Regions from separate parts of the Homo sapiens genome. Here region 2 is linked to region 1. Evidence: fine-mapped expression QTL. Tissue or cell type: whole blood. Region 1 holds a variant in brackets; the other region holds the start of a gene. All regions are shown on one strand. Distances are between the middles of the regions.

Region 1 (4,158 bases):
AGGGCATAGATGCGGCCGCCGGCACCCACCATGGCGTGTAGCACGCGGGGTTCGCTCATGGGCGCCTTGAACTCCCACTGGTCGGCCACGGGGTCGTAGCAGTGCAGGGCCTTCTTGTCCTCCACTGAGATCCCGTAGCCACCCGAGATGTAGAGGCGGCCCCCTGAGGCGGCCCCAGCATGGCCCCAGGTACGGCGCTTCAGCGAGCAGGCGTAGCCCCACTCATTGCGCCGGGGGCAGTACCGCTCCACGGAGGCCAGGCTGCCGGCTCGGTTGCGGCCGCCCGTGGCGTACACCATGCCGCACAGCACGTTCAGCTGGAACTGGATGCGGCTTTCCTGCATGGCCTGCAGGCGCAGCCAGCGATTCAGGTGGGGGTCGTAGCGGTAGCAGGCGTCCACTGCGCCCTCGCCGCTGCGGTACTGCAGGTGCTGCCCCCCGGCCACGTACACAAAATTGTCCAGCACGGCCACGCACGTGTGGCTGCAGCCTACCTCCATCTCCGTGAGCTCGCGGAAGTGGCGGGCTCCCGGCTCAGGCAGCTGGTAGACCTTGCTGCTGACCGAGCGGTCGCTGTCGGTGTAGGGCGTGCCGCCGAAGGTGACGAGCGAGGGCACATCCGAGCGCACGGCGGTGCGCGGAGACTGCATCTCGTGCTGCCGGAAGGGCAGCACCTGGTAGTTGAAGGCCTCCAGCAGATACTGGCGGCACAGCACGTCCTCCACCATGATGTCCAGCGTCTGCACGCTGTCCACCAGCTCGGACGACTGCATGAGCGGGAAGCGAATGTGGCAGAGCACGTGGCTGGCGCGCGGCCGCCGGGCCGGGTCATGCTGCAGCCAGCGGACGGCCGCGCGGAACAGGTCGATCTCGGCACAGCTCTGCAGCCGGTTGCTCTGCAGGAAGAAGACCAGGCGCTCCAGTGGCAGGCGCAGGAAATCCTCCTCCTCGGCGATCTGCAGGAAGTGCCGGAAGGTGAAGGCATCCACCGACTCTCGCAGCGAGGCCAGGCTGAAGGTGGTGGCCATCTGGCCGATGTTGAGGCAGGTCTCCACGCTCATGGCCGCCTTCAGGAACTCCTCGCACAGCTCCACCACGGGCAGCATCTGCAAGAACACGGCCGCGCCCAGCACGTCCTGCACGCAGTCCAGGTCCAGTGTCACCTCGGCGCTGTAGGCGAAGTCGATGATGTGCCGCAGGCCACGGGCCGACACGCCCTTCAGCTCGATGACGTCCTGGCTTGCCTCCCGCATGCCGCCGGTGAACATGGCCCTGAAGGGCAGAAACACAACGTGTGGCTGGCAGTGGCTGAGGGGTGTTTTGGCCAGCCAGGAATGATCTGGCCTGGGGAACAGTAGCCTGGGGACACAGAACACAGGGCACAGCCAGCAAGAGGAAAGTAGGCGGAATGCTCATTAAAAACATGCAAAGGGGCCGGGCGCGGTGGCTCATGCCTGTAATCCCAGCACTTTGGGAAGCCCAGGCGGGTGGATCATGAGATCAGGAGATCGAGACCACTGGCACTGCACTCCAGCCTGGGTGACAGAGTGAGACTCAGTCACAAAAACAAACAAACAAACAAACAAACAAAAACATGCAAAGGCCAGGCACAGTGGCTCACGCCTGTAATCCTAGCACTTTGGGAGGCCGAGGTGGGTGGATCACCTGATGTCAGGAGTTCAAGACCAACCTGGAGGTTGCAGTGAGCCGAGATCATGCTGCACTGCAGCCTGGACAATAAGAGTGAGACTCTGTCTCAAACAAACAAAAAAAACATGCAAAAAAAAAAAAAGATTTTGAATCCACCCAAGCCATGCATCTTCCTATAAATAGCAACTCCCTGCTTGGCCCCTCTGCAGAGGACCCTGCCCCTGCCCCTTCATGACTAGATCGTGTTGGAGCTGCAGGAGCGGTGGCCCGGGTCAGCCTCACCCACAATGTGCCTGTCGGGGGTGCGGTTAGAGGGGCCAGGTATGGCAGTGCAGGATGAGAACACACCCTGTGGCTCTGGGGACAGATCTGCAGCCCCACTTGACACCTGAGCTCAGGAACTGCAAGGCCAGTGCTCTGGAGGTGCC[A/G]TGCACCACAGTTCAACCCTCACCTTGTTCACTGACCTAAGCAGGCAGCTCTGATATGCCCAGCCTGAGTCTCAACAACCATCATGTGAAGAGGGGAAGGTAATGAGGGTCCCCAGGAATGGAGCCCCCACCAGGAGGCTGTGCTGGGGTGACTGCTGTCTCCAGAGACAGGCTCAGGTGGTCGGGGAAGCACCTCCCACCCAACAGCTACGTCCCCAGCCTCCATTGAGACCCCAGCTCCGCCCTTGTACTGCTGTGCTCTGCGAGGCAGAACATGAGAGTGGGAGGGGACACAGGCCCCCGTGAGGGAGGGCAGCGGGGAGGCACACGGTTCTAGGTCACAGTTCCCCTACAGCGTTTAGGGTGTTCCCCAGCAGAAGAGGGGAGAGCACCCCAGCTCCAGGGGAATGGGCGGTTCCTTCCAGGAGGCGCAATGGCATGGCATAGTAACTCTCACTCCTGCCAGTGCACCTCCCCTGATGGCCGTCCGAGGAGGAGGGAACATCCCTTGTGCATTTGACCCACAGAGGCCTGTCCCCTAGTCTTGCACCTCCTGTGAGCCAGGCTCAGGGCTACAGGGGCAAGGACAGCTGCCAGGGCACTATCTCGGGGCCGCCCACTGACATCTGCCCAACAAGCAGCTCTTCAGCATCTCTGAGCGGTCCAGGAGCAGTAAGTACGCTGCCAGCTCCCCAGACCCTGCCCCGCTTGTCCCCACGGGTCCACGCTGGCCCTCGGGCATGATGCGATGAAGGCAGAGGCGGTCGCAGGCGACAGGAGGGAGCTTTGCCTTTTAAGGTCTCGCTGGCTGCAGTGCCAGCACAGGGGAGCCTTTAAAGGGCATTGCTGGCTGGGCTGGCCCACCCGTCCCCAAATCCAGAATAAAAATAGAAGCGGCGCCCCAGTTGGCTCGGCTGCTGCGGCCCCCACAACAGCCTCATTGAGCCCATGGGGCAGGCGGCCCGGGCCTCGGGGAATGTGTGGCTGAGCGGCACACCTGGGCTGGGGCCTGGGAGCCTCCCCAGGGCGGCCCAGCTCTCTCTGGCGGGGTCACCACCTGGCAGGAAGGAGGCTCACCTGCTGGTCACCCAGGGAGGGAGACCACTCAGCCCTGCAACAGCCCCCAGCTGGCGAGGAGAAAGCACCCCCCACCCCACAGCCCTGCTCTGTGGTGCTCTCACTTCCGGCCCGGCCACGGCACAGGGACAGACAGACAGTGCCCGCCATGGCCTCTTCTGTCACGTTGGGGAAGTGCCCACAGCTCAGGGAGACAGGGAGGAGAACTCATCTGGGCCTCAGACAGAGCCCAGGACATGGTGTTGGCAGACACAGGGTCTCTGCGGCCCTCGATGCCCCTCCAGTCCCCCAGCTGTCCTGCTCCAGGTGTCCTGAGGGGATGCCCTGAGGGCAGGGGCTTGTGCCCATTTCACTGTCATCCCTGCTGCATCCCAAGGACTAGAATAGTGCCTGGCATACAGCAGGCGTCAAGTAAAGACAGATTGGGCTGGGCGCAGTGGCTCACGCCTGTAATCCCAGCACTTTGGGAGGCTGAGGCAGGTGGCTCATGAGGTCAGGAAATCAAGACCATCCTGGCTAACATGGTGAAACCCCGTCTCTACTAAAAATACAAAAAATTAGCCAGGTGTGGTGGCATGCGCCTGTAGTCCCAGCTACTCGGGAGGCTGAGGCAGGAGAATCGCTTGAACCCGGGAGGCGGAGGTTGCAATGAGCCAAGATTGTGCTACTGCACTCCAGCCTGGGCGACACAGCGAGACTTTGTCTCAAAAAAAAAAAAAACAAAACAGATCAAAAACCTGGCCAAGCCCTGCCACCCTGCATGCAGGGTAGAAGTGAGTGGGTGCCCACAGGCCATCTCTGTCCCTCCAGGCATGTTCTGCCCAAAGAGAGTAAGATGCAAACTCCGGGAAACCTGCAGGTTTACTGGACATTAAACCTCTCTCTAAAATCAGAAGGGGCCCGGAGCGGTGGCTCACGCCTATAATCTCAGCACTTTGGGAGGCCAAGGCAGGCAGATCACGAAGTCAGGAGTTCAATACCAGCCTGGCCAACATGGTGAAAC
Region 2 (4,158 bases), 30 kb after region 1:
AAGAGCCATGCCCAGCATGGTGGCTCACATCTGTAATCTCAGCACTTAGTGAGGGGTGAGGCAAGAAGATTGCTTGAGCCCAAGAGTTTGAGACCAGCCTGGCAACAGAGCAAGACCTGGTCTTTACAAAAAATTTAAAAATTAGCCAAGTGTGGTGGTGCACACCTGTAGTCCCAGCTACTCAGGAGGCTGAGGTGGGAGGATCACTTGAGTCCAGGAGTTTGAGGCTGCGGTGAGCCTTGGTGGCGTCACTGCACTCCAGCCTAGATACCTGGGTGACAGAGCGAGACGGGGTTTCAAAAAAATAAAAATAAAAAAAGCCCTAGCCCCAGGTTATCCCACTCCAGTGCCCAAGGCAGGGACCTGGGGTTCACTGTCCCTCTTCCCTGTCCCTTACTTGCCAACTGATACCCAATTTTCAAGCCCTGGCCACTCCCTGAATATCTCTGAAAATCCTCTGACATCTCCTGGCTCCCTACTGCAGGACAATCTTGCCCCACACCTACCCCAGGAGGCTGGTCACCCCTCTGGACACACACCTCCTGGGTTCCCCATGGCCCCTCTGGCAGACCAGATTCAATGCCCACAGACCTAAGTCTCAAGGTGCCACTCAGCATCCTCAGGAACAGGCAGGGCCTTTGCCTCCTCTGTGCCCTGGCCCAGCCATCCCTCCTCCCTTCCCCACCCATCCCATGCGTGTTCCATTCAGTACCAAATCACACAGCCAGGCCATCAGGCCATTCCCTCCAACAATCAGCCCACAGGTCCAAAACTCCACAGCACGTAAGTATCAAACAACTTCATCATTTATCATGTTGCCTGAAATTACTGGCTCCTGGAAGCTCACCAGCAAGAAAAAGCCTGAATTTCCTCCTTGGCCTGACCTGGGTGCTGGGCTAGAGGAGGAGCTGGGGTGGGAGGGTCTGGCTTTGCCCAATAGGAAAAGAGCAGGAGATCACACTCCTAAGGCAGGTGTTCTTTCCCTCTGACAATCCAATACAATGCATGCACACACATATCATTAGTTATTGATGATAACTAATTGTCATGCAAACCTGGACGTTCAAGCAATCCATGTCAGGACTGGGCCATGGGGAAAGGGGGCCTCCCTCTGACCAAAGGGGTGAATTCTGTCCCCTTGTCTGAGGGCAAGACCTTTCTGTAAGTCCTTTAGCCTGTTGGGGATGTGGATTTGGACCCCATGGGGATGGAAGGGAGGAGCCCCAAAGAAGAACCCTCTGTATGTTCTTTATAAACCCCCTGGAGTTCTCTCACCCCCCTCAGGTTCCCTAGACCCACCCCAGGCCCCCTCAGCCTCCCCATCTCAGACTCCCAGATTCACCTAAGTCCCCCACCCAGAGCCTCCCACAGTCTCTACTCCTTCCAGCGCCCCTCAGCACGCTCTCAGGACCACCTTTAGCCACCTTGGGGCCCTTCAGCACCTCCCAGGATGCCTTGGGCCTTAGCCCCTTCCTCAGAGCCCCCAAGACACCTCACCACCCTCAGACTGGCCATGGCATGGCCCCTGCTCAGGCCCTCTCTGCTGCCCAGGCCCTTTGGCATCCCCAGTTGCCCCACGGCCCACCACAGTCAAGAGCCCCTCGGTTTCCCTTCAGACCCCCAGGATTCTCAGGTCCCTAGGGCCGCCTGCAGACGCCTCGAGGTCCTGGGGCACCCAGCCCCCCTCCAGCCACCCCCTCAGTAGCCCTCGGCTCCTCCAGTACCCCACGGCCCCGTAAAGTCCAAATTCTCAGCGAAAGACCCTCGAGCCGTGCCAGGCCTCCCCTCAACCCCTCAGGACGCCCAAGACTGCCCACAGGTTTCCTGGGCTCCAAGACAGGTGCAGGTCTATCCTGCGGGCCGGGTCTCACCTGTTCGGGCGCTCGGGGCCCGGGCCCGCGCCGAAAGCGCCGCCGCCACCAGCACCACCGCTGCTACCGCCGGACTCCGCCATCTTCCCCCCGCCGTCGCGCGTTCGAGTGACGGGAGCCGCGCGCGCAGGCCCGGGAAACCGAGACGCGGGGGGCGGGGCGGGGCCAGGTCTGCGGAGGGGCGGGGCCGGGACCAGAAACCAAGGATTGGGGCGGGCCCGGAATCGGAGGGGCGTGGTCTACGGAGGGCCGGGGCGGGTCTGGGATAAAGGGAGGGGCCTGCTATGCAGAGAGGTGGGTCCAGGGCGGGGCCTGGGCTAGGGGTGCCGGATTGGGGCGGGACCCTGGCGTGAGGGGCGGAACCAAGTCTGAAAGGGAAGCGGTTCTGGGCTGAGAGGGCGTATTGTCTGTGGATAGGTGGGGACGGGGCGAAGCAGGACAAGTAGGCGCAGGATGGGGTTGGTCCCTGGGCTGAGGAGTGGGGCGGGGTCTGAAGAAGGGGCAGGCCCAGGGCAAGAGGAGGAGGGACAAGGGTCCGGCCTGCGGAGGAGGCGGGGCGCAGGATAAAGGGCGGGGCCAGGTGTGAGAAGGGACAAGGTGGAGGTTAGGAATGCGGTGGGGGAGTGGTCGGGGAGGTAGAAAGGAGAAGATGGGTCTGAGGTTGGGCGGGTCTGGGCAGGAGAGAGGAGGAATCTGGGGATGGATGTGGTCAAGCGAAGAGAGGGCCTGGTCTGAGGAAGGGCGGGGCCTGGGCGAGGGGTGGAGTCTGGTTGGAAGGAGGGCGGGGAAGATCAGGGGTGTGTGCGTGGAGGGGGCGAGGGATTGGCGGGGCCGGGGGGGCGGAGCCTCATCTGATGGGGGTGGGGCCGGGCTAAGTGAGCGGCGGATCTGAGGAGGGGCGGGGCACGTGCAGGTGTTAAGGAGTGTCTGTGAGTGCCCTGGGGCGCTGGCAGGCGTGCCCCGGGCGTTGGCTGGGCGTGGTTATACTTTGAGGCGTTGGAGCCACAGGGAAGTGAGTTATAGGTAGGGTGGGAGGGAGGGTGAGATGGAGCATGGAGAAATGGGTCTCTAAGCTCTGAGAACCACACCCTCCCTCTCCCCACCCTGCACACCCCGACTCCAGTCTTACCTCCTTCCCAGGCCTCTCTCAGGGGCGAAACTCACCCATGCCCAGGCCTCAGACTTCCAGCCCCTCATGGTTCCCCACCCTCCCCTGACATACCCTCTTCAGAGCCTCCACCCTGAGACCCCAATCATCTGGCCTTAGGTTCCCACCACCTGCTTCATACACCAATTCTGGTTTCTCATACTCTAAAACCCTGCACATCCAATTATCTCCCATTCTCTACTCAAAACTCATCTCCCACTCCCCCAAATCCCTGCCCACAGATCCTTCAAACCTTACACTCCCAAAGTCCATTCCACCGGACCCAACACCCTCAGATCCCCAAGCACCAGCCCTCCCAACACACTGACCCTCAGCCAGGGCTCAAAGTCCTGCATCTATAGGCGTCTATGAAGCATCTAGACCTTTTGGGGGCACCCCTCACCCCCCATCTCTGGTAAGCTCCAGGCTCCCAGGATCCCCTCTGTAGCTTGGAGCTCATTTATTCTTTTAACCTCCAAGTCAGAAAACTCTGACTTGTGCAGTCTTGGGCAGAAAGCAGTGATCCAGAAGGAGCTCAAAGCCTTCTTTCCCGTCAGTGCTGGAAGAAGGAGGTGGCTATGGGGCTGGAGACCCCATAGGAGGAAGGAAGGGGCCTGCTTGAGTGGACTCCTGCAGGTTGGACCGCACTCAACCAGCATCTCCAACAGAGGGCCTGATACAACAATACGTGCTCAATCGTTACACAAAATGCTCTCAGATGACCCTGTGCAAGCTGACAGATACCAAGTGCTGAAGGGAACTGCTGGCATCTCCAATACACAGTAAGCACTCTGCAAATGTTGAATGCACGCGTGCATGAACAGCTCACGTTCCGGCAAGCTCTGCACACACACACACACACCCTTGCCTGCCCTAAGTCAGCACCGCCCCAGGAGTCTTTGTTCCAGACGAACCACATGCAGGCATCAAACCTCACTCAGCAGCGACCTACAGCTGACACACCCGCCACAAATAACATTTGAAATCAATGGTGTCCATATGCACGCACACTTCATAAACATCCAGATTTGACCCATATGTCAGACACACAAGACACACAGCTGAAGATAAGAAAGAAGAGGTTCTCTGGGCTCCTGGCTGTGCACACACACATAGTGTGCTGTAGACTCACTGCACTTT

What was found. PIP is the estimated chance that this variant, and not a neighbour inherited with it, causes the effect.
Region 2: KLHL26 starts here. The variant in region 1 is the best candidate, but not a certain one, in a credible set for the expression of KLHL26 in whole blood (TOPMed, PIP 0.54).

The regions. Positions count from the first base shown.
Region 1 is chr19:18,664,778-18,668,935 of GRCh38, reverse strand. It overlaps KLHL26 (kelch like family member 26), which reads right to left. Exons shown (of 3, transcript NM_018316.3): 3 at 1-1,272. Among named protein-coding and RNA genes, the nearest start is that of CRTC1, 17 kb to the left of the region's middle. The variant A/G (reference allele first, on the strand shown) is at 2,079.
Region 2 is chr19:18,634,851-18,639,008 of GRCh38, reverse strand. KLHL26 (kelch like family member 26) reads right to left here and starts at 1,981. Exons shown (of 3, transcript NM_018316.3): 1 at 1,872-1,981. The coding sequence starts at 1,954. RefSeq lists enhancers at 1,028-1,542, 1,543-2,057, 2,016-2,310 and silencers at 1,797-2,306, 2,357-2,516, 2,527-2,606, 2,647-2,836.